6 separate regions of the Homo sapiens genome follow, and all the other regions are linked to region 1. The links come from fine-mapping of genetic effects on gene expression. A gene starts in region 1. Each other region holds a variant in brackets. All regions are shown on one strand. Distances are between the middles of the regions.

What was found. PIP is the estimated chance that this variant, and not a neighbour inherited with it, causes the effect. A credible set is the group of variants that fine-mapping cannot tell apart.
Region 2: its variant is the best candidate, but not a certain one, in a credible set for the expression of EMC1 in nasal epithelium (TOPMed, PIP 0.78).
Region 3: its variant is the best candidate, but not a certain one, in a credible set for the expression of EMC1 in fetal neocortex (Walker 2019, PIP 0.89).
Region 4: its variant is the best candidate, but not a certain one, in a credible set for the expression of EMC1 in lung (GTEx, PIP 0.90).
Region 5: its variant is the best candidate, but not a certain one, in a credible set for the expression of EMC1 in lung (TOPMed, PIP 0.73).
Region 6: its variant is the best candidate, but not a certain one, in a credible set for the expression of EMC1 in monocytes (BLUEPRINT, PIP 0.79).

Annotation. Positions count from the first base shown.
Region 1 is chr1:19,249,633-19,253,632 of GRCh38, forward strand. It overlaps EMC1 (ER membrane protein complex subunit 1), which reads right to left and starts at 1,892. Exons shown (of 23, transcript NM_015047.3): 1 at 1,783-1,892. The coding sequence starts at 1,877. It overlaps MRTO4 (MRT4 homolog, ribosome maturation factor), which reads left to right and starts at 2,173. Exons shown (of 8, transcript NM_016183.4): 1 at 2,173-2,231. The coding sequence starts at 2,204. RefSeq lists an enhancer at 1,805-2,310.
Region 2 is chr1:19,079,672-19,083,774 of GRCh38, forward strand. UBR4 (ubiquitin protein ligase E3 component n-recognin 4) reads right to left here. Exons shown (of 106, transcript NM_020765.3): 103 at 1,678-1,902. Among named protein-coding and RNA genes, the nearest start is that of IFFO2, 130 kb to the left of the region's middle. RefSeq lists an enhancer at 1,424-2,623. The variant G/GC (reference allele first, on the strand shown) is at 2,129.
Region 3 is chr1:19,185,417-19,189,519 of GRCh38, forward strand. UBR4 (ubiquitin protein ligase E3 component n-recognin 4) reads right to left here. Exons shown (of 106, transcript NM_020765.3): 12 at 2,025-2,124; 13 at 1,748-1,885; 14 at 1,124-1,241. Among named protein-coding and RNA genes, the nearest start is that of UBR4, 23 kb to the right of the region's middle. The variant TTA/T (reference allele first, on the strand shown) is at 1,660.
Region 4 is chr1:19,064,102-19,068,204 of GRCh38, forward strand. No RefSeq gene overlaps it. Among named protein-coding and RNA genes, the nearest start is that of IFFO2, 110 kb to the left of the region's middle. The variant T/C (reference allele first, on the strand shown) is at 2,555.
Region 5 is chr1:19,097,452-19,101,545 of GRCh38, forward strand. UBR4 (ubiquitin protein ligase E3 component n-recognin 4) reads right to left here. Exons shown (of 106, transcript NM_020765.3): 88 at 4,069-4,094; 89 at 2,925-3,122; 90 at 2,146-2,226. Among named protein-coding and RNA genes, the nearest start is that of UBR4, 110 kb to the right of the region's middle. The variant G/A (reference allele first, on the strand shown) is at 1,614.
Region 6 is chr1:18,380,278-18,384,380 of GRCh38, forward strand. No RefSeq gene overlaps it. Among named protein-coding and RNA genes, the nearest start is that of KLHDC7A, 99 kb to the right of the region's middle. RefSeq lists an enhancer at 2,841-3,640. The variant G/A (reference allele first, on the strand shown) is at 1,974.

The DNA.
Region 1 (4,000 bases):
GAAAACTGTAGGCCAGGTGCAGTGGCTCACACCTGTAATCCCAGCACTTTGGGAGGCCGAGGCAGCCAGATTGCTTGAGCCCAGGTGTTCAAGACCAGCCTGGGCAACATGGCAAAACCCCGTCTCTACAAAAAATACAAAGAAACTGGAGAGGTGTGCACCAGTAGTCCCAGCTACTCAGGAGGCTGAGCTGGGAGGGTCACTTGAACCTGCAAGGTCAAAGCTGCAGTGAGCCATGATAGTACTGTACTCCAGCCTGGGCTACAGAATGAGTCCCTGTCTCAAAAAATTTTAAAAAGTCTTGGCTGGGCGCAGTGGCTCCCACCTGTAATTCCAACACTTTGGGAGGCCTAGGCGGGTGGATTACCTGAGATCGGGAGTTTGAGACCAGCCTGACCAACATGGAGAAACCCTGTCTCTACCAAAAATACAAAAATTAGCTGGGTGTGGTGGCGCATGCCTGTAATCCCAGCTACTCGGGAGGCTGAGGCAGGAGAATCGCTTGAACCCCAGAGGCGGAGGTTGTGGTGAGCCATGAGATCGCGCCATTACACTCCAGCCTGGGCAACAAGAGCAAAACTGTCTCAAAAAAAAAAAAAAAAAAAAAAAAAAAAAGTCTTAAACAGAGTCCTTTTCCCCCCTCATCAGCCTAACCTGGCCCTGGGCTCAGAGCAGAGCTGCCCAAGACACTAAGCAGTTAGGAAATGCCATTCATTCATTCATTCATTCATGAAAATAAAATTAAGAAAATTGCATATATCAAGTATTCTGCAAAATTAGATACACATATCACCCGATATATATGTGTAACATACACATATGACATTGTGAACAGTTGTGCACATCATTAAAAATGTAACATGTTTTATTTGTCACACTGTCTGGCATAACAGGTACTCAACATATATGCGAATCAACTTTTCCAAGACAGAAAATACTTCAGAGGAGGAGAAATCTGACCTGGGCCCTGAAGAATAAAGTGTAAATAGCAATAATAACAGATAACGCTTAATGACTGCATTCAATGAGCCAGGCATTGTGCTAAGTAATTTAATGGGATTGTCTCATTCATTCTCACAAGTACTGTAAGAGATAACGGACTGTTAGTAAACCCATTCTACAGACAAAGAAACCAAGGCACAGAGTGGTTAAGTCACTTTCCCCAAGATCACACAAGTCTTAACTAGTAAAATTCAAACAAAAGCAAGCTACTCCAGGGCCTTAAGGAAGACGTGGGTGGGTGAATGAATGAATGAGTGAATGGCATATTCTAGCTGCTTAGTGTTTTGGGCAATCCTGCTGTGAGCCCAGGGCCAGACTAGGTTGATGAGAGGGGAAAAGGACTCAGTTTAGGACTTTTAAGACGAAAGCTCCTGTTCACTTGCCTACAAGACACCAATTCGAGTAGGAATTAAAGTTCACTGACAGCTTGGCGACCTCTGACACCTGGTAGACCAGAAACCTCACAGTCAAAAAAATCGAACCTGACGAGGGAGGACGGGATCAGTGATCTCTGACCGGCACCCCAAGCATTCCTGGATGGCAGGGCCGGCTTACACGCAAGGATCAGCTTAGAATGACCCCTAACACTTGGTTTAAGGCTCTGCTTCCAACGACTTTAAATCCTTAATAATTTTTTAACAAGGGGCCCCACGTTTTCATTTTGTACTGGGTCCTGCAAATTATGCGGCCAATCCTGTTAAGTGACAACCTTTAGCAGGTAGGAGACAGGTACTGGGGAAACAGCCACTTATCTCTCGAATATGTTCCACACGTACGCACCAATCAAACTTGCCCACTTGGTCTTCGTAGACCGCGGCCGCAGGAATCAGCAGCGTAGCCCAAAGCCAGAAACGAGAAGCCCACTCAGCCGCCATGATGCGAGCGCATGCACCACCCACCGCCGTCCCGGCATGCACCGCGCCGCGGGCTCCGCCTCCGCGGGACCACAGAGCTGGGATAGCGCGCGAGGCCCTCGGTCGGACGGGACGCTCGGGATTCAGGGACTGCCTCGGCACACGGGAAGTTGCCCTACAGGCGCGGGAGAAAGCGCAGGCGGCGGCTTGGCAGGGAGAGGCAGGCTGCAGTGCACATTGGGTCAGGCACACGCGAGGGGCAGCCCCCGAGGGCCGTCCCAGAGTCCCCCGCGCCGCCGGGGTCCTAACGGGGTGCACCGTCTTCCGCCGCACGTGGATTCAGCGCGATGCCCAAATCCAAGCGCGACAAGAAAGGTGGGCGAAGGGGGAGTCGGGACCCTGGGGGGAGCTCCGTGGGCTGGCTACCCAGCCTGCGGTGAGGGCTTCGGGGCGGCGGGGGCGCAGATTGGAACGCCAGGACATCCTCGAGGTGTTCCGCTGCCTCGCTGCGAGCTGGAATGGGGGCTTCGGGGCTGTAAAACCGCCAGAGGTGGCTGACGCCCGGTCGGGTCTGGGGAGCGGAGACTCGTTTTGCCTAGTTTCAGGTGCTCTTGCAAGGCCAACTGGGTCGGGAGGCAGCTCCTGAACACCGCCCCCGGCTATGCCTGCTGCCGTTTCGGCCCACTTTTCCCAACTTCGGCCCTTTCTCATCTTCCTGCGCTCCCGCCACCCTGGCTGCCTTTCCCTTCTTTCAGCACAGGTTTGTTCCCGTGTCTGGCGTTGTGTGTCTGCGGTTGTTTCTGCCTGGCATGCTTACATCTTCGTATGGTTTGCGCCTTCTTAGTTGTCAGTTAATAGGATCCCTCTGAGACAGGGTCTCGCTCTGTTGCCCAGGCTGGAGTGCAGTGGCGCGATCGTAACACTGCAGGCCGGATGCGGTGGCTCACGCCTGTAATCCCAGCACTCTGGGAGGCCGAGGCGGGCGAATCATCTGAGGTCGGGAGTTCCCGACCAGCCTGGCCAATATGGTGAAACCCCTTTTCTACTAAAAATACTAAAAATTAGATGGGCATGGTGGCAGGTGCCTGTAATCCCAGCTACTTGGGAGACTGAGGCGGGAGAATCGCTTGAATCCGGGAGGCGGAGGTTGCAATGAGCCGAGATCGCTCCACTGTACTGCAGCCTGGGCACGACAGAGCGAGACTCCGTCTCAAAAATAAATAAATAAAATAAGTCACTGCAGCCTTGACCTCCTTGGCTTAAGCGATCCTCCCACCTCAACCTCCCGAGTAGCTGAGACTACAGGCGCACGCCACCACACCCAGCTAGGTTTTTTTTGTTTATTTTTTATAGAGAAGACTCAGTGTGTTGCCAAGCTGGTCTCGAACACCTGGGCTCCAACCACCCTCCCTGAGTGCTGGGATTACAGGCGTGAGCCACTACACCCGACTTGCGCACCTCTTAAGAGACCGTTTTTGACCACCTTTGCTGTGGTGGCCTCTCTCTTAACCCGGCTCCCTGGAATATTCAAAAATATTTAGGGGTCTGGCACTTTCTAGGCGTTAGAGGATACAGCAGTCACAAGGAAAGCCTATTTCTTATCGAGCCTAACGTTTTAGGAGAAACATATTCCGCAAAATGCTAAAAATCAGATTGAAAATGGGGTGAAGAGATGTTGATATTTTGTATAGTGTGGTCGGGAAAGGTCTCACTGATGAAGTGACAAATGAGCAGAAAATAAAGAAAGGAAGCGAGCAACCTGTGGAATTGAGCAGCTGTGGAATTATCTGGGAGAATGCTGTTCCAAGTAGAGGGAACCTGAAGTGAAAAGGCTCTGAAATGGGAGCAGATATGACGTGTTTGGGACAAGAGGCCAGTGAGGCTGGAGCAGAAGGAGCCAAATAGAGTTTGGGGAGGGAGTTAGGCAGAGAGGGCAGGACTTCCTCGGCCTTGGCAAGGCATTGGCTTTCCTGCCCAGGTGAAGTGAGTAGCAGAGGACCCATGTGATTTACCTTTACTTATGAAGGGTCACTCTGGTTGCCTTGGTGAGAATAGTTGGGGAAGACAGGGCAGAGGGCAGGAATGGAAGCAGTGAGACCAGCATTAATCCAAGACAGGGTGATGCTGGCTTGAGCCAAAGGTAT
Region 2 (4,103 bases), 170 kb before region 1:
TATCTCTACACGCCCTTCCAGCCGCGGTCTCTCCCCCATGGGTCTCCTCCCAGTATCGGGCTAACCCACAGTGCCTTTCCTAGTCTGCCTGATGAGTGCCGGGCTCACGGCCCCGGACCACGGCCGTATTTGGCCCTTTGCTGTGGCTGTTGTGCTTTGGTAAGCAGAAATCCTGAGTGACCCTGCCCAACTTAATTATTTAAGGCCAATTAGTAAAGGTGACGAAACTGCTACAGAGAAAACAGCAACTCATGAATGTAGTAGCTCACACTGGATTTCCTAATTAAGCTGTGACCAAATCAGCTTTTCCTGAACTGCCTGGGACAATAATGAATGCTAGTCTCCTAAGTGAGAGCAAAACAGCTCCTGTGGGTTCAGATTGCACACCCGCCATGGAGAGACTGTGCCCAATAAATGGCCACTCTATTTGCTGTGGATGCAGCATATGGATACTGGCCAAGCCTGACTTATCAACTTAGTATTCTCAAGATCTAACTTTTGATTTCCAGCAGCTAGTTAACTATTAATTCAGGCTCTTGGGAAATACTGGAAAGTGATATGTTAGGAATGGGGGCAGGGGTTACCTAGGAATCTAACAAGACGCCCCCTCCCACTCTCCAGTGATGATCTGGTACAGGCCAGATTCAACAGGACAGCTCCAATCTGGTCTCTCTGGGAGCGTGAAGTGCCCACAGACCAGCAACGCTTGATCAATCAGGGCTAATGGAAATAAAGACACCAGGTGTGCCAATGAGGGCACAGGCTATTTTCCACTTGGCTTGTCTTTATCACGGCCCTAAAAGTTTCTCTCTGCTCCCTGGATGGCCTACAAATGTGGACATGATCCCTCGAATCCTGGGCTAAAGCAGAATCACAAAAATCACAAACCCGATCTTCCAGAAATGAAGCAGAGGCACATTTCACTCGAGGGACAGAAGCAAAATGCCAAACCCAGAGCCTGCTCCGTAGCTCCCCAGGAAAGGTAGAGACTGTGTGGGGCCATTGGCAGCCTGAGTGGTACCCATGGGGTCTCCTCTGCGCACAGCAATCCATGGGGGTCCTCAAAGAGATGCTGTGGTGGCAGTTTCCAGCTGTTTCTCTTGAGACCATCTGTCCCAAATCACAGCCCAAGGTCATAAATCAAAGACCACTTCCTTTCTGACATGCTCTTTCTTGGGGAGGTGTCCACACGTATAGGAGAGTGGTCTAGAGGAAGAAAGGTTCATGGAATGTGGGACGCATGGGATAGGAATGTAACCAAGAAGAGAGAATGAAGACGAGTTTTTAATTATTAGAAAATACCCCATGTGGCCACACTGAAACTTTCCTGGCTTATGCCAACACCAGCAAGATGTGGAAAACCTGATTACTGTTCTTAGCCCTGATCATCTCATTGGTTTTATCACCCTGTGCCTGGCTGCCTTCCTAACATTTTCTACAGTAGGTAAGACTGGCTCTACCTTTCTAGTAGCGGAACAGAAAACCCAGAAATGACCAGGCAACCTGCCAGCCATCAGCTTAGACTCTTGACATGACAGACTGAGAAGGGAGAAGGGCTGGTGTCAACCACCGCAGTCACAAAGCATGCCTTCACCTAGCACGTGCGTACCACTAAGCAGCTTTTCAAAACTGATGATGGGAAATAGTGAGCAGCAGCTTCCGGAAGCAGGTACTGACCTGGTGGCTCCACCTGGAGCCACTGCCCGAGCCTGCGAGGTCACCAACAGCCTCCGCAAGATTTCCACACGTGTGGCTCTCCACTGCTCAGGGGGCAGGATGTGAAGGGCCAAGACTGTGAAATAGTAGGGCCCGTCCACTTCAAAGGCACTCTCCACCCACTTCTCCTTGGGCTGTTCCAGAAAGCCTTGGAGGTTCTTCTCTTCTCGGGAAGTTGCTCGGGTTCTAGAAGAAAAGCGGCATGATAAAATAAAAGCAGGGTGGAAGCAGGACCCGGCAGCAAGAGCAGGAAGAATTTGCTCAATTTGTCGTTGTCTTGTGACATTTGCTGAACGCTTGGATGACTCAACACTCCCCACCCATCCTTGCCGACTACTCCCACTTCCTCTGATAATCCACGCCCTTCGTCCCCTTCCAGGCCCTTCTTCGCGGCATCTTCCCTTCTTCCCTG[G/GC]CCCCATGTCTAGCTCCTACCCCAGCTCTAATACAATTCCAAGCAACTACTGGTTCCTGAGCACCATATATCAGGGACGTTCACAATCTCCCCAACATGGAACTGTGCTAGTAACTCCAGAGGCCCAGAAAAGTGAAGTGACTTGCCCAAAGTCAGCAAGCTAGTGAGTGATGGGGCCAAAAACATGAATCAAGATTCCCTGGTGGGTCCACAGCCTGACTCCCCCTTGCTCCACATAGTCTTGTTATGTTATGTTTACATGGTTTGCACTAAATGTGCATGTGGTTCCTTTCCTAGGCTCCCTCTTCCGGTTTGTCTTCTTCTGATCTAGGATCCTCCCGCCTTCGTTAGAACAGCCTCTTCCAGATGAGCGCTGCTTCTTGTCCTCATGCGTCCTAAGTTGCAATGATGATGATGATGATGACCACACCAGACTCAGTGCCAGGCACTGCTCTAAGTGCTTTACGGGATTATTTCACTTAGTACTCACAAGAATGCTATGGGATAGTGCCACCACTATCCCAATTTTAAAGAAACAGAAAACTGCAGTACAGAGGAGGTAAGGATTCTGCCCAAGTCTCACATCGTGGAAAAAACTGTGTTCTGAAGCCAGGTAGCCTGTCCATCTTAACCCTACCTCCTTCTCCACGCTGAAGCTTTGACAAAAGGTCACGGAATCAGCACTGAGAGGTGACTTAAGTCCTTCCTGATGACACGCTTCTGGGTACACTCTCTCCTTAGATCCTGAATGGTGCTCTCATGCCATGAATGCTTGATGCCCTATCCTAACTCCATGGGGCACTGGTAGGGAGAGGTGGGGACAAACACAACACTAGAACCGGGAAAAAAAAGTTACCAGGTCTATAGGTGGCACTGGCACAGATGCTGGACTCTGGGAAAGCAGGAGGAGAGGGTGCAAGGACACCCTGCCTGCTTCTGCTGCCTGCAGATGGGCATGGATGGATACATTCAACTTGATCTTCCAGCCCTGTAGGGAATCTGAGGCTGTTGGCTGCTGCAGGATCTGCTCAGGCTCTGGTCTGGCTTACGGTGGCCATGCTGTGACATACTTGCCTCCATAAACAAATATTCCACCAAAGGCACTCAGCCCCACTGTGACCAAGCTCCCACCAATGTCAATTGGATAGCTGTCGACTGGGAAGCAGTCTGGGCCGAGAAGCAAGGCCTCTCTGTGAAGCTTCTGGGTCAGCCTCTGGCTGACCAAAGAAACTGTGAGACAGCCAATTCCCTTTCCAATGAAGGGACCTGACAATTACAAATGTCTGGCTTGTTCAGAAACATACTGACACCTAGTCACCCAGGGCTCTGTCCAGGGCCCCAGGAACACTGAGAAGGAGCGAAATTTGGACAGTGGGAAGGTCTGCGCCATCAGTGCTGCCAGGTGCTGCTCCCGCCAGTCTAAGCAGTTCAGCAGATGATGTAATGCACTCTGATGTCAACCTGCCCCTGCGTGTTTTAACAATGAAGCCTGTGGTCTCGAGGTCAGCCTTTTAACTCACAAGGAAATGGGAGGGAAGGAAAAGATAACATTGTTGAAGAGAAAGAACTAGAAAAGACAAGAGACAGATTGTCCTGTTGCCTAAACTGTGCTGCAGCTACCCGGGGTGAGCTGTACACAACCTTTCAACAGGGAACCGTAAGCCTCTTGCTAGGAGATGGGGCCTACAAGCATGAAACAGTGAATTAAATGGAAGAGCTAAAGGATAGTCAATCTCCTAATTTTTTTTTCTTTGAGACATGGTCTTGCTCTGTCACACAGGCTGGAGTGCAGTGGTGTGATCACGACTCACTGCAGCCTCAACCTCCTTGGCTCAAGCCATCCTCTCACCTCAGTCTCCCGAATAGCTGGGACTACAGGTGTGAGCCTGGCTAATTTAAAACAATTGTTTTTTTCATTAAGACAGAGTCTTGCTATGTTGCTTAGGCTGGGCTCAAGCAATCCTCTTACCTTGGC
Region 3 (4,103 bases), 64 kb before region 1:
GCATTTGTGTATCAAAACTCATCTAAATGCATACATAAAATAAGAGCAAAACTGATCATCAATAACTGATTCAAATGTTTGGATAGATTCAACCCGTTAAGAATTTCTCACATTATTGCATGTAAATTATACCCCAATAAAACTGATTTCTTTTTTCTTTTTTTTTTTTTTTTTTGAGAGGGAGTCTCGCTCTGTCACCCAGGCTGGAGTGCAGTGGTGCAATATTGGCTCGCCGCAACCTCCACCTCCCAGGTTCAAGCGATTCTCCTGCCTCAGTCTCCCGAGTAGCTGGGACTACAGGCTACAGGCATGTGCCTGGCTAATTTTTGATTTTTAGTAGAGATGGGGTTTCACCATATTGGCCAGGCTGGTCTCGAACTCCTGACCTTGTGATCTGCCCACCTCAGCCTCCCAAAGTGCTGGGATTACAGGTGTGAGCCACCGCGCCCAGCCAATTTTTCTTTAAGGAGCCCAACAAAGAAAGAAAAACAACTTCACATTATTTTACTGGTAACAAGCCAAATATTTTCAAGAGCGAATTTATACTTGCCTTATCAACCATAAATCACAGGACGGTAAGAATCACACCTCCCTTCGTATTTCACATTGTTCCCACAAACCTGATTATGAAAGAATCTGAGGTACTTACCTTATTCATTCTCTCATCAAACTAAGGCAGGAGGGCATGCCAGTGGGTTCACTACAACAGGATTAGGTTTCTCTACTCAAGCTTCCCTAAACTATGACTATGATAACATCCAAACCGAACACCTCACATGTGACCTTTTGAGTTTCACTGAGAAAGCTTAGAGCAGAGGTCACAAAATGAGTCAACACAGGAAGAAATATGGAACAATTGAGATGTTTTCTGATTTTGGAGGGAAAGGAATGAAAAGTAACCCAGGCTTGGCTGAAAGTTGTTTCCATCATTCATTCATCAACAGCTCAACTTGCTCTTAAATAACATGTCATCTTTGAATGCACATAAAACCAAGGTCCAGGCTAAGCAGGTGAAAACAAAATGGAAACTTTTGTTTGGTCAGGAAACTACAGGAATCTGCTGAGAACACTCCTGTTGCACTCTATAGCTTATCTCTGGGAGAGAGAAAAGAGCGGCCTCTACCTTGGCTGCTGTCCTCCTCCGTGCTACTGAAATCGTCCTCATAGTAAGTATTGGAGTCGGTGGAGGCGCTGGCATCGCTGCTCATGGAGCCCTTCCTCTGCCGCTGCAGGACACATGCCTAGGAAAATGACAATTACAAAACCGGAGCCATCCTATTTAATCTCATGCATCGCATGAAAACTTTCTCCATAATCTCTTTTATTTTTTCCTAAATCCAAGAGTATGCCTCTTAATAGCTCCCTTAATTAAGGACTTTCATCACTTTACCCTACAAAAACACTACCAACCAGAGACGTGGACAAGAATTGAAAACAGGAGTGTTTCCATAGTGTCCTCTATGCTTCTGCTTCAGTATGCCAATCATCACAAATCACCAAGTAGCCACGTGTATCACAAAACTGATAATTAATAACTGATTCAAATGTTTGGATAGATTCAACCCGCTAAGAATTTTTCACTTCTTCAACACCAGTACCAAAACTTTGGGTCTATAAAGGTCATGGTGTGTAGTCAGTCTTATTCATTTCAAGAAAGTT[TTA/T]TATATATATATATATATACATATATATATCATATATATAAAATGAGACATTCTTCTAAATTATCAATGGCTTAACTCCCACCCACCTTTCTGTAGGAAGTTGAAAGTAACGTCAAGAGCAGGTTCATCAGTGGGACAGAGTCAATCAGCCGTTGAATCCTCTGTATGGAGGTGCTCTGGGCCATAATGCTCAAGGCTGCAGGGGGGCCATCTGTCTCCCAACCCTGAAGGCAATGATATCAAAGGGCAATTAATGATACTACTCAGCCAGAAAAAACAACTTGAGTTGATGGATCAAGCTTGCTTGGCCAGAAGTGGATCCCGCAATCAATATGCTGATTACCATGGGGATAACCTCCTCACCTTGTGAAGGGCCTCCACTTGTAGGTCTTGAAAGAGAGACGTTAGCAGTTTGATGGCATGGTTTGCCAATATTACTGAGAGTACCCCAAATCCCTGATGCCTACACAAAGAAAAAGGAAAACACAATCCTTAAAATAATTAACAATAAATTACAACTTCTGAAGCAGTGGATCTTGCCATTTTGGGGTTTCAGACCCCTTTCAGACTCTGTGGACCTTCAGAAAAAAAAAATTGTACATACATACATCTGCATATAATTTCTGAAGTTCACAATCTCCTTGAACCCCATCCACAGATGGCCTAAGGATCTGCAGGCTTCAGGTTTAGAACTCCTGGACTAGGCTGGGCACGGTGGCTCACACCTTAAATCCCAACACTTTTGAGAGGCCGAGATGAGAGGATCACTTATGCCCAGCAATTTTAGACCAGCTTGGCAACCTAGAGAGGGAGACCCTGTCTCTACAAAAAAATTAAAAAGTTACCCAGGCATGGTGGCATGTACCTATGGTACCAGCTACTTGGGAGGCTGAGGTGCACCACTGCACTCCAGCCTGGGTGACAGAACAAGACCTTGTCTCAAAACAAAAAATTAAATAAATAAATAAATAAATAAATAAATAAATAAATAAAACCTCCTGGAATAGAAGAAACTCCCAAATGGAAAAATTTTTGGAATTTAAACAATCAGTTCAAGGCTAATGGGTTATACAAAGATGCTGACTTTTAAATGTAGATTGAACTTTTAAAGAATCATTATTTTGAAAAGAAAAAGGTTTGAATTACCAACTTCTATAAAATATCTGGAAACAAATCTAAGAGAATAAAAAGAGAGGCCTGGAGCAGTGGCTCATGCCTATAATCCCAGCACTTGGGGAGGCCAAGGTGGGAAGATCACTTGAGCCCAGAAGTTCAAGACCAACCTGGGCAACATGGCAAGACCCCATCTCTACAAAATATGAAAAACTTAGCCAGAAGTGGTGAGGCACACCTGTGGTGCCAGCTACCCAACAGGCCGGGGCAGAAGGATCACTTGAGCCCAGGAGGTGGAGGCTGCAGTGAACTGTGTTCATACTACTGCACTCCAACCTGGGCGATAGAGTGAGGTTTTGTTTAAAACAAAAGAGAGAAAAGAAAATTACATTCAAGTAAAGTGTTTTCCTCCTGTCCAAAATCTCCACATAACAAAAGGTTAATATATATGATTTGCAAGTTCATATAAATCAAAAAGAAAAAAGAACAAACACAGGCCAGATGCGGTGGCTCACATCTATTATCCCAGCACTTTGGGAGGCCAAGGCAGGAGGATTGCTTGGGGCCAAGAGTGCAAGACCAGCCTGGTCAACACAGCAAGATCCCATCTCTGCAAAAAATTTTAAAAATTAGCTGGGCATGGTGGTGCACACCTGTAGTCCTAGCTACTCAGGAGGCTGAGGTGGGAGGATCACCAGAGCCCAGGAGTTCAAGGTTACAGTGAGCTATAATCCTACCATTGCACTCTAGCCTAGGAGACAAAGTGACTCTACCTCTGTAAAAATAATAATAAAAAAATTAAAAAGAAAATGACAAATACCAAAAAGAAAACCAAGGCAAAGGACATAAGGCAGTTTACAAAAGAAATACAAATGACCAATAAATAGGTGAAAGGAAATACAATCACATTAGTAATCAAAGAAATACAAATACATGAAATATCATAGCATTCTCTCCTCTAAGACAAGCAAACATGAAGACTAATGATGCCCATTGTCAAAGAGAGCATGGGGAAATGGGCATATAAGCACACAGCTGGTGTCAATGCAGATTAGTGTTACTTTTCTAACGAGTAGTTTGACAAAACATTTCCAATGTTTAAATATGTGAGCCCTTTGTCCTAACAACGGTACTTTTGGGAATTCATCCCAACAGGACAATTAAGTTCCCAAAAGTTTATATTTCAGGAAGTTATCAAAACAAGACATTTGGAACAATCTAAATAAGCGCTTAGCAATAGGGGAATTAGGCAACTACGGTATATTTACATAGTGGAATACTGCTGGCCATTAAAAACTTAGACATTTTAATAGTGTCACTGAAAAGATG
Region 4 (4,103 bases), 190 kb before region 1:
CACACAGTCAGCAAGAGGCAGAGTTCCACCTGGAACTCAGTCTGTCTGACTCCCAAGGCCAGTGTCCTCCCACCTAAGCTGCCTCCCTCCCTAGCATTGGCAGAGAGATGGGCAGGTGGCCTGGAGGATGGGCGCTGGGGCAGGCGCGGTGGTTCCCAGGCCTGTGTCTCTCTCCTGTAATCCTCCAGAGATCCCTGGGCCAGCCTTTTTCTCAGCCAGGGCTTAGCAACTTTTCCTAGAAAGGGCCAAGCAGGAAATGTCTTGGGCTTTGAGGGCCACCTCTGGTATCTGTCGCATATTCTTCCAGCCCTTTACAAATGTGAAAACCATTCTTCCTTGCTGGCTGTCCAAAAGCAGGCAGGATTTGCCACCCCAGTTTGGTAAGCTCTGCTGGAATTGATCTGCCATTTTCAGCCAGGTCAGCCTCTGGGACAATAAGTTCTTTGTGTCTGTCCCCACAGTCCTGGCCAGTCAAGTCTGTATATTTCCCAGGTAATGTCCAGCTGGACTGCGGACCAAGATGAGGTGGCAAAGGGGATGGTCTTGGATTTGGACTTAAATCCCTGTTTGTCACTTTGGACGGAGTGGCCTCAGTTTCCTTGTCTGGAAGATGCAAGTAATAGTGCCGGCCTCACGGGGTGGTTATAGGATGAAACTCCCCGTAAGCACTTCCCACGGAGCGAGGCACACCTTGGCAGGTAATTGCGGTGTGGGAAGCACCTGGCGGCCCAGCCCTGGTCTGAACAGCACCTACGCCCGCTTCTTGATGAGGCTGTGGGCCTGGTAGTGCCTGATACCATGATCTTGTGCAAGGCCCTGCCCCTCCTGGGCCTCAGTTTCCCTGTCTGAGGTTGGTTGGATCTGACCCCTGAGGGTCCGCCACCCTTCAGGAGTTAATGGAATGAAAACAGCCATGGGCATGCCAGCCGTCTTGTGCTGATGGCTCTCCCAGGCCGGACGCCACCCTGTGTGGTGCTCAGAGCAGCACGACATGGCAGGGAAGGAAGCCCAGCCTGGGCCCATCCCTGCCCGCCCCTCTGGTTCAAGGCTGCCTTGCCTTCCCTGGCAGGTAGGCAAGCGCAGTCCAGGCTCCGGGCCCCACCATCCCAACCCTGGAACGTCAGGCCCCAGGGAGGCAGAGGGCTCTCCCCTCTGAGCCACCGCTGTCCCCAGGGTCCGTTTGGATTCTGAGAAACCTGTCTGCCATTCTTACCGCAGTCCAACCCTGCGGCTGGGGTGCCAGCCAGGGTAACCGGGAGGAGGACGGGGTGGTTCCCAGCCGGGCCCTGGAAGGCTTCTCAGAAGCCTCTGTTCCCACATCAGGGAGATGTGTCTTAGAACCCACAACTCCTTGGCATCTGCTCAGAGCTGGGCACTTTGCAAACAAACATGTCACATCTATCCTGTGAGGCAAGGCTGCTGACTGCCTTTTACAAGGGGCAAAACTGAGGTTGCTGGGGAAGCAGCTTGTCCAAGGTCGCATAGCCAGAATTAGAACCCAGGACTGTCTGACACCAAAGCCCTTGAACTTTCCACCTGCCACCCAGCCCATAGAGTTGGAAATGACCGTTGACATTGTCACCTCCCAAGTGACACATCTGAGGCACGGCCAGTAGACTGGCCTCTGCTTGGATACCTCCAATGACAGGGGACTCACTACCTCCAAACAGCTCTTGTCACTGTGGGAGCCCTGCTGTCAGCTGTGTTTTCCTTAGACGGAACGGAAACCGCTTCTGTGAAGACCCTTCCTGGGAGTAGGTCCTTCATAACTCCAATGACGCACTTCCAGCGCCGCCTCTGTGCCAGGCTCTTGGTGAATCCAATGAGGCATGTTTGCTTTACACATGAAACCGAAGGCCTGGCCAGGTGAAGGGCTGTTGCCCAGCCAGCCCTGAACCCAATCTGGCCCCAGACTCCAACCTCAACCACTTTCCACCCAGCCCTGGCTTCGGGGCCCCATGCAGAGCTGGCAGGTGTGGTGGGGCAGAGGAGGGAGCGGCCTCAGAGAGACGAGGCAGGGAGGGGCTGGGGAGCCGCCTGGAGCAGCCCCCACCCCCTCCCCAGGACTCAGCACAGTCCTGTGGAGAGGAAACGCTGCAGAAAGGCGGGGTCCTGAGGCTTCTGGAACCTGCCTCCCCTGCTCACAGCACTTCAGGGCCCTCGTGGCGCTCAGATTGGCCCCTTCACCAGCCCCTCGACGTCCCTGTTCCTGACACTCCAGGCCTGTCCTGGCTTCCAGGCAAGGGCACCTGCTGCTCCGACGGCCTCCATGTGGGAACCTGTGTCTGGGACTTGTCTCTCTGAAGCAGAGGGGGCTCCCTGAGGTCAGGGCCTGAGCTGGCTTAACTCAGCACGTCCTGTGAGCACCTGTGCCAGGACTGCCAGATTTAGTCAATAAAAATACAGGCTGTCCAGGGAAGTTTGTATTTCAGAGAAATGGTGAGTCATGTTTTTTTAGTATACTCCATACTAAAGACTGTAATAGTTCAGGGCGCTGGCTGAGCCCCCTGTAAACTTGGCACCTGGATCTAATTCTGGTCCTGTCCCAGCCCAC[T/C]GGGCTCAGGAACCTAGCAAAGCACAGATCCCACTGCCCGATACCCGTTGTGGGTCCCGCCACCGTCAGAGGTTTACATGTATTTGGTGTTTATGTGAGATTCAGATTTAACTTGGCACCTTGAATTTCACCCAGCAGCCCTAACCCAAGCCCCTCCTTTGGGTGAAGCAACCTCATCCTCGAGCCCCGATTCCCTCATTGGAATGGGATTAACAGTGCCTGCCTCAGAGAGGTGACTCGGGACACGACCGTCGGGTATGGAATCCAGCCCTGCACAGTGGGTTCCAAGTGGGGCCCCAAGGCAGAACCCAGAGCGAGGGAAATGGGAAGGTGCTGGGCCCGCGTCCCATGGCCTGGGCCACCCCTGTGATCGATGGCTCTTGAGGTGACTGGAGCCCTTTTGGCTGCCGGGACAGGAAGGGAGGGAGGGACTGGTGGCCCCATTCACACTGTGCTGTGAAAAGCAGCAGCCCTCCAGCCATCACTTCTGAAACTGGGCGAGGAAACAGAGTGGCATTGTCCTTTTGTCTGCTGTGACACTCCGCATGTGACCCTGTCCCGTGAACGAGCAGATTCCCGCCACATGAGGGGGTAGGGGCTGAAGCGCCAGCAGCTCCATGCCCAGCATTCAGGCCCCACCAAACAAAAGCCACCTCCTAATTGCCCTGTTTGTTCTGGCACGAGGGCTGATGGGGGTGCCTGCGGAGCTCCCTGTCAGCCCGGCCTGGAGCTGGTTCCCAGGGCCTTGCACCTTGTCCGCCCAGCCCCGAGCACGGCTCCCAGCCTGCGGCCAGTTAACCCTTGGCTGTGGCTGCCCTGCCTGCCTGCTGGGCACCTGGCCAAACCCTGGATCCCAGAGCTGTGCCCTCCTGCTGGGAGCTGGGATGATCTAACCCAATCCGTGCCCAGACCAGATGGGGAGCAGGGCCAGGTGAAGAAGCAGGGCTCAGGCTGGCTGGACAGGGAGGCTGCATCTCACTTACGTGCTGTGCAGCCTTGGGTAGGTGAGTTTGCCTCTCTGAGCCTAAGGTTCCTCATCTGTAAAACAGGAAGAACAACAGTAAAAGGACTGGAGATCACGTGAGGCATGGTGATCCTGCTGGAGTGGGTGCTCAGTAAATACAACTCTGGTACAGTTCCCAGATCTCTGAAGCCGGGAACAGCCTAACAAGGGGTCCAGCCAGGACTCCTTGTCGGGACCAAGCTGGCTTGTGGACAGAAGGGGTGGATGGGGTGTCAAGGTCATTGGCCAAAGGCAGCAGAGGGATCTAAGGAACAGAGTCCAAAGAACAATGAGCCTGAGACCCTGTGCCCTTCACTCCTGCCCATGCCCAGAACACCCCCACCTCCCATCCTGCGTGAGAGTTCGGGGCTCTGGATGACTTCCCCCTGTAAACTTGGCACCTGGGGCTAATTCTGGTCCTGTCCCAGCCCCCTGACTCAGAAACTCAGCAAAGCACAGATCCTGCTGCCCCATACCCACTGTGGGTCCCACCACCGTCAGAGGTGGTGACCTTAGATACCTCCCACCACAGCTTCCTCACCCCAG
Region 5 (4,094 bases), 150 kb before region 1:
GAATGCTAATTTTATTTTGTGTCTACTAGAAGCTAGACATTGTATGAAACATTTTAAAGACACTATCTCCTTCAATTTCATTAGAACACTATGTAATAATCTAACAAATATTTATTGAATGTTTTACTCTGTGCCAGGTCCTATGCTAATTAAGTACTTTCTATGATCCTTTTACATAAGGTTACACAGCTTGTTCAAGGTTACCAAGCTATAAGCGGAGGTCTAATTCCAAGCCTGGACCTTCCTCAGGAGTAGAAACTGTCTCCAATCAATAGGGACTACTACCCAGGACAAACAAGGCCATTTAAATCAAAGAGCTTTGACTCAAGCCTCGGGAATCAAAACAGGAAAAGAGAGTACATCAATCTTTACCTACAGAGATTCAGACGTCTTTATATAACCATACAAGGAGGGGGTTCATCCACAATTCTTTAAGCTAAACCCACAATCTGACTAGAATGATAAGAATCAAGTCTTTTATAAATGACAAAATTACAGCAACTTCACTAAATTGGAGAATAAGGAAAGTTCCCTGTATGTCTGGCACTGAGCACATATATTAATATTATTCTCATTTTGCAGACTAGAAATTGGAGCTCAAAGTAACCACTGATGAAATCCAGTGGGGGATTTGGTAGCACGCTAATTCAAGCAGCCTGCCTCCAAGTCTATGCTGAGCTTCAGGACAGGACACCCTGGAGGAAGACAACCTGCCAGAAAGGCCAGTTGCAGAAGTGTTTCCGGCTATAGAAGCCCAGTGAGAATTCCTCAGAGAGAACCACCACAGACACTGAACACAGAGCAGGTTCTAGTTCTAGTCAGTAGCTACAGAGGTAGGCTGCTTATCAGGGAAATGGAGGGCAAGGTAGAGAAGGGAAGCTGAAGTCCCAGAACATAGGCTATCACAAACTCAGAACTTTGCCAGAAAACCTTCTAACTGGATTAAGCACATCAATGTGAGGGGCAAATGATTCTCAACTTCTATCTTGCTTCACCATTCAAGGGAGATACCCTGGTGCATTCTGTGGGTTCACTACCACCATTTACCAGAGTGCCCACAGAAGCTTGGTCTTAATTTTTTATATGCATCAGGGATTAAATCTGTATTGTTCTGTTTTGATGCTACAATGTCTGTAACAAGAGGTACTGGCTGGGACAGTTCTCTGCCTGTCCCTCAGCCAACAGTGCAACAACGACCCCACTGGCAGTAGACCAACAGTCAACAGTAAGCAGGATTCCCAGCCCAGTGGGAGAAAAGAAAGGAGAGAGGCGGAAATATGTAACAAATTGAAGATCAAAATCTACAAATAGTATACTGCCAATTTAGTTTCTCAAACTCTACAGAAGTATTTGGGACCAAGTCTAGAAAAGTTTGCTGTGCATCCCTGCTACACTAGTTTGCTGTAATTAAGTTACTTATCTGATTCATGTGCTAAAGACCTCTCCTCCCAATAGAAACAAGAGAAGGGAAGAAATGGCAGGGGGAGAGAGAAATGGAGGGGAAGAAAAAGAAACAGGAAGAGAGGAATGGAAGGAACAGAGAGTAAGAAAGGAGGGAAAGGTGAAGGGGACCATCTAATACTTCCATAAGTGGACAAACAGCATCACTCGTG[G/A]TGGCCAAAAGGCCCAGAGCGCTGGACTTCCTTCATTTCCCTTTTCCCCTCCTCAAGAATAACTGCCTGTTTGAGCCTCCATTCCCCAACTAGTAAAACAGAAATGATGCTCCTTGACACAGCTACTGGAAAAATGTTCTACTAAGCGAGCAGGCCCATAAAAGCTGAGAACTAATCTCAGCTGAGAGGTGTCCATACTGAAGGGAACAAGACAGCAAGCATTCCCAGCACAGAGCCTCCTTCGACACCCCCTGGCTTTCAGTTCTTGGGGTTTGACAACTTGCACAGCCCAGCAAAATGCTTTTGCTTTCCTGAAGCTTCATGAAGGTCATTAAATGTCCCTCCATTAGTCAGATGCCTCCAAAGGAAAACAAGATTGGTTTTCTCCACACAACCCCAAACAGGGACAGTAAAGCCTTAGAGAGCTGCTACAAGCCAGGTAAGTGATGATGAACAATGGCTCCTGCTGGTACAAGTCTGCATAAGTCAGAAAAGTGAAACCACACCTCCAAACGAGAAAGCAGGCACATACCTCATTCGTGGTACACCAGACTTTCTTGTAAACTTCAGCCACAGGAAGGTCCAAACTAATGATTTTATTGTTCACTAGAAGCTGAACAGAAAAGCAGGTGAAGCTGTTGTTCCAAATAATTGTAAGACAAGTAAAATCCAAGAGCAAAGGGCACCTTACGGCAATGGTTGATAATTCACAATTTTTATATGTCATGGACCTATCAACTCTCCCACTCTTAAAAAATCCGCACGTATGAAAAACACACAGAATTTTGTGCACAATTTCAGGGGCTGCTAACGTCCCTAACCCACACACAGGCTCCAGCTTAGACACACCCACCGGGGACCTTCTCCTGCAGGCTCAGCACCAGAAAAGGCTTTTCACTATGTAAAAATGTCAGACCCTCAACGGTCTGCCAGAAAGTAACTGACACGGGGACATAAACCTGCACAGGGGGTAAAACGCCAATATTTAGGGGGCTCAGGTAACTCAGACTCACCGAGAAGTCTCTGCCAGAGGCAATAACGATAATAAATACCCACCACCACTACAACCAACAGCCATTAACAATATGCTTACTTCCTGCCAGGCACTGGGCAGAGCCCTTTACAGGTTATTAACCTTAGCACTAGGTGAGGTAGAAAGGTGGGAATCATTAACCCCAACTTACAGAGTGGAGAAACTGAAGGCCACCTGCCCCAAGTTAATCAGCTACTAGGAAGAAGCACCTGGATTTGGTTAGCCTAGGAGGAAGCCCCTAATCGTAAACGTGGGCAGCACTGTCCTATGGTCATTACCTCCATGCCACTGTCATCTTCCAGGAGGGCCACTAAGTCACAGTCCTGGCAAATCTTGTTCTTTATATCCCTCATCAGCGGCCCGATGCCTGGCTCATTGCTGCTATACGGGTTCCCAGGCATCCTGCCCTGTAAGAAGTCTTCTTGTTGGGGATCCTTCTCCAGGGTCACAAAGAACTCAGTGACTTCATTCTCCTCCTGGAGGACAGACAGAAGGGTGCATCAGAAGGGATGGCAGAGGTGGAGATTTATACCATGCTACCTTGTTCCATGGACACTCGAGGAAAACACACCAAACTCAGCAAGCCCCCCAAACATTTAAAGATACAAAGGACAGGAAACTCAGAGGTACTTCCAAAAATCTAAACAAACTCAAGTAGACTAAAATATCAAGCATCTACCCTGAAACCCCAGGGTGGATTAGGAGATAAAGCCTAACAAAACAAGCAGACAAGGAGTGACATATGAGAGATATATTAAAAAATCGGGGAAGGGGTGCGAGGAGGGACTTTCCTTCCTCCTCCTGCTGGTCTCATGTGATGCTAACCAATTTGGGGCCAGAGGACTTTGTCACTGATGACCCTGAAGTCAAGAAAAGGGCTTCTCTATGGGACATGACACTCAGGTACACACCCCCAATGAGCTCTCATTGCTAGCTCATGATACTAGTGTTCATCTTTCCTCAATAGCAGGAAGGGTTCTCTGGATGATACTGTGCTTCTACACAGTTCAGGCTAGGGAAAAAAACACACGCTGCATGTGTGCACAAAATACAGGGCAGCTAAAGAAGGAAGAGAGTAAAAATATCTTTATATTCAAGCTCAATACCGCTTCTTCCACAGTATGTTGGATTGATATGCAATGGGATTTTGGTAATGGAGGTTAGACCTAGTTTTTAAAAAAACATGATTCTTTACTTGAATCTAGGAAATAAGACCAAGGAAGGTCATTAAATGTCCCATCGTTAGCAAGAGGAAAATTATGAGGTTGCTTCACTTTTATGGCGGTGGATCTTCTTTCACTAATGACTAAGTGGCCCACAGCTGGTACAATTCCCCATAACTTTAATGAATCACCAAGAGGCTTCATGGCAAAGTGGGCTGTGCTGACACTCGAGAGCCATGGGAAGCACCGCACTGCTTACAGGATAAATGATGCTGCAGAGCCTCT
Region 6 (4,103 bases), 870 kb before region 1:
GAAGGAACTGGCCCTGCCAACATGTTTAGCCCCATGAGACTCATTTCAGACTTCTGACTCCAAAACTAAGAGAATAAATTTGCCATATTCTTTTAAACTTAGGTTTGTGGCAATTTGTTACAGCAGCAGTTAGGAAACTAATATGATCACCCAGGATGTGATTAAGGCCCAGGCCTAATAGAACATAAATCACCCCTGTCCATACCCCATTGGCCAGGAGTAGTCACATGGCCCAATCTGACTGCAAAGGAGGCTGGGAAATGCAGCTTTCCTGTGTGCCCTGGAGAAGGAAATAGAATGATGACCCCAGAGCATTGCATCTTCCACAGAGAAGCTGGGACCCATTTAATGATTCATTTCCATGAAATGAAATGAATGGAAATTATTCATTCATTTATTTCATCCCATGGAAATGAATGAATTCCGCCCAGGCCAGAGTGGCCAGAGGAGGGAGGACTGGGAGGAGGCTCCATCACCAGAAATGGCTCTCATCACTTCTGCTGCATGAATGCCCTGTGCTTCTTCTCCCTTTCCAACCAGCAGAGACATCACTGAGTCATCTGTGCCTCTCTCTCAGACAGTGCAAATGTCTTAAAGAATCAGGGACATCCCTACAAAAACTCCAGGTGCCAGACACACCAAGCTGAGAATTAAGCATTGGCTCTATCTCCTTGTGGTCATCATAGCCCATTTGGCCCTGGTCAAGTCGGGTCCTGAATGACCATTTCAATCAATTTCCACATTGACTTTCGAATTTCTGACTCCCTAACTTTTCCTTGGAATTCCAGACTCAGATGTCCAACTTCATAATATGGTTCCCCTACCTCACTGGACATCAAATATGCATTTCCAACTTCATGTGGCCAAAACCCAATTTTTGGCTTTCCCTCCCAAAACATGCTCCTTCCCTAGCATTCCCCTTCTCTAGAAATAGTACCATCAACCCAGTTGCTTTGGTCAAACATTTCACTGTTATCTTTCATTTATCTCTTTCTCTCATTCTTCCGCATCCAACCCAATAGCTTGTTGGCTTTCCTCTCAAAACTCATCTAGAATTTACCCACTTTTTTCTTTCCCCACTGCCAACCTAGACAAAGCTTCCTCTTGCCTGGAAAACCACCTCAGCCTCCAATCTGGTCTTCAGATTTCCTCCCCAATCTCCAGTCCAGTCTCCCACATAGCAGCCAGTGGAATCCTTTTAAATCTGTCATGCCACAGCGACCTCCTTCTCAGAACCCTGGCTTCCCATCACACAGAAAACAAATCTGAGCCCTTTACAGGTCGACTGGATGTGGTCTGCTCTGCCTGACCCTCTAACGTGTCTCATCCCCACTCCCTCTCTCCTGTTGCTTCATTCACACTCATCTTTCCATTCACTGAATTCTTCAAGTCCGCTCCTGCTTGAGGACCTTTGTTCTACTTGTTCCTTCCACCTGGAATTCTCTTCTCCTTTGCAGGGCTGGCTCCTCCATGCAATTGGATGGCAGCTTAACTCCCACTCAGAGAGACCTACCTGACCACCACACCCCTCTCCATCGTGCCACCCTCGATTTAATTCTCTGCAAGGCATGCATTATTACCCTATGCTTTTTCTACTTACTTGTTTATTTATTGGCAGTCTTTCCCTACCCTGAGCCAGAACGTCAGCCCCATGAGCACAGGGACCAGGTCTGTATTGTGCACTGCTGTATCCTCACACTTAGACCAGAGCCTGGCACATGGCTCAATAACAAATTATTGAGTGAGTGAATGAATGATGAATGAATGAATCAGTACCTCCCAAGGACCTACTATGAGCCAAGCACTGTGCTGGTCACCAGGCTGCAGAGATGAGCAAGAAAACTTCAAGGAGCTCACAGTCCTGGGTTGGGAAAGCATCTATCCAGCTAAACAATGGAAGTCAAACTGTGATGTGCACTTGGCACCAGGACCTGCTCAGGACGCTGAAGCATCAATGTGAGAGGGATTAGTCA[G/A]AGGAGGCCAGTGAGAACAGTAATAAATATTTGTATGCCTGTATTTTGCAAGCTGATAACAAGACAGAAGTAGATGATTTTCAGTTGCTGAAGGCTCTCAGATAATCATCAGTGTACAAACACCCAGGCCTGATCAGCAGGCAACAACAACAGAGTACCCCCTGCCTCCTCCGTCTACTTCCTTCTTCCCCAAAGCCCTGCTCTGTCTCATGGGAACCACCTGGCCCCTCACTGTCTGCTAGCAATTCTACATAAGCCTCTGCTGCACGCTACCTTTGCCTGTTTTCTGGAGGAAATTTTAAAAAAAAGAAAGATGTGTTCCCGCTCTTTTTCTTAACAGAGGGAAGCCCATGTAGGCATGAAATTGGAATTGCCTTGCTCCATTCACAGCATGGTCATTGGGCTCCACTGACCCCTGAGGGGCATTAATATCTCAGCAGCAAGTGGATGAACCACGCAAAGTGGCAGGGGACACGCCCGAAGAGAGCCAGCTGGGAGGCCTAAGGCTAAAGGGTTGGGGCGGCTGCCTGCTTTGGGCTTTGAATTTGAGGACTTTGAGCCCTGAGCAGGCTGAGATGGTGGCTTATTCAACCTGAAATTGAGAAGTGGGAGGACAGCGATGGGCAAAACAGAGCCCAGCCTGAAAGGGGAGATGGATGCTCATTTATTCATCCACACGCTCATTCACTCATTGGACAAACCCTGAGCATCACCCGGGCCAGGCTCTATGCCAGGCAGGAGAAGCACAAAGACAAGCAAGCCAGGCCTTGCCCTTAAAGAGCTCCCATCCATCAGGAATGACAGACCTGGGGGAGAGAGCACTGCAATTCCATGTGATAAATATCAGAATAAAAGTATGAAGAGGATGCAATGGGGCACAGAAAGGGTGAAAGGCTGTTCTGCCCAAGGACATCAGGGCAGGCTTCTAGGAAATGGTGACATTGCAGCTAGGCCTTGAAGGATAAGAGGGAGCATCAAAGTCAACTCTGCCACCAATGCAATTTGGCCCCAGGTTAGTTCAGGTGCCTCAGCTATCTCTCAGACACCAGCCCAAATGCTGCAGGTCACTAGGAGGGACAAGGCCCCAAGTTCTGGTTAGGTTTGCATTGTCACCTGAGAAGACCTCATCTTTAAAAAAATAGACTGGCCAAACACATGGCCGCTGGGCCTGGCCAGACCACCAAGTTCCCCATTCCTTGGAAACTCCACCTCAGCCCATGGCTCTTCCCAGTCATGAGTCCTGGTCACCACCCACCATCTGCAGATTCCCCCAGGGGTACTCTGGCTGTGCAGAGGCCCCCTGGGCTGGTCAGCTGCCTCTTGGGATGGCCCAAGGTGCCCACTGATCCCTGCTGGCTGTAGGTGTGCCCGGCTGGCCGGGTAGATGCAGAGACACCTGCTGGGTCTCAAGGGGGCCACTGTCACCAACACCCACCACATCAGCCCAGGACTCAGCCCCCGCCTCCTGGGCAATCAGCCCTCAGAGTTGGGCTCATCAGCAAGAAGTGCCCACAGCTGGTAGTTAGCAGTCTTGTGTGTGGTGGCTCTAAGATGGGCCCATCTTTTATCTGGCCTGGGCTCTTCAAGTGTGAACACCTGGGGTCCTCCCCATCACTCTGGACACAGGAAGTCGGGGAAGCCATGCCCCTCATCCTATTGCTGCCCCTTCCAGGAGGAAGGCTGCCCCTTCCAGGGAGGAGGGCTGGCGCTGGCTCTATGGTGGTCCATTTGGCCAGGAGCCTGTGAGAGAATCAGAGTCTGTGGTCGCCGTCTTCTCCACAGCATTGGGGCACTGTGCTTCTGGGGCCCAACAGCCCCCACCCCAATGGAAGTCACATGCTCCTCTGGCCCTCTCGCCTCCGCAGACTGGAGACCTTTATCCCTCTTGCTTATACCCTGGCCAGGGCTCTTGGCCAAGCAGGAGAGGATCTGGAGGCCCCGTCCCTGACAGGTAACTGTGACCCAGCAGCCAGCTTCATCTTGGGCCATGGTTACCTTGTCTGCAGGGAGACGCAGGGCAGTGAACTGTGGCTCCCATCCAAGAGGCACTGGCTGCCCTCACAAGACAGTGATGCAGGGTTTTCAGATTTACTGTCCTGACCTCAGAAAAGCTGTAGGTTTTATTAAAGG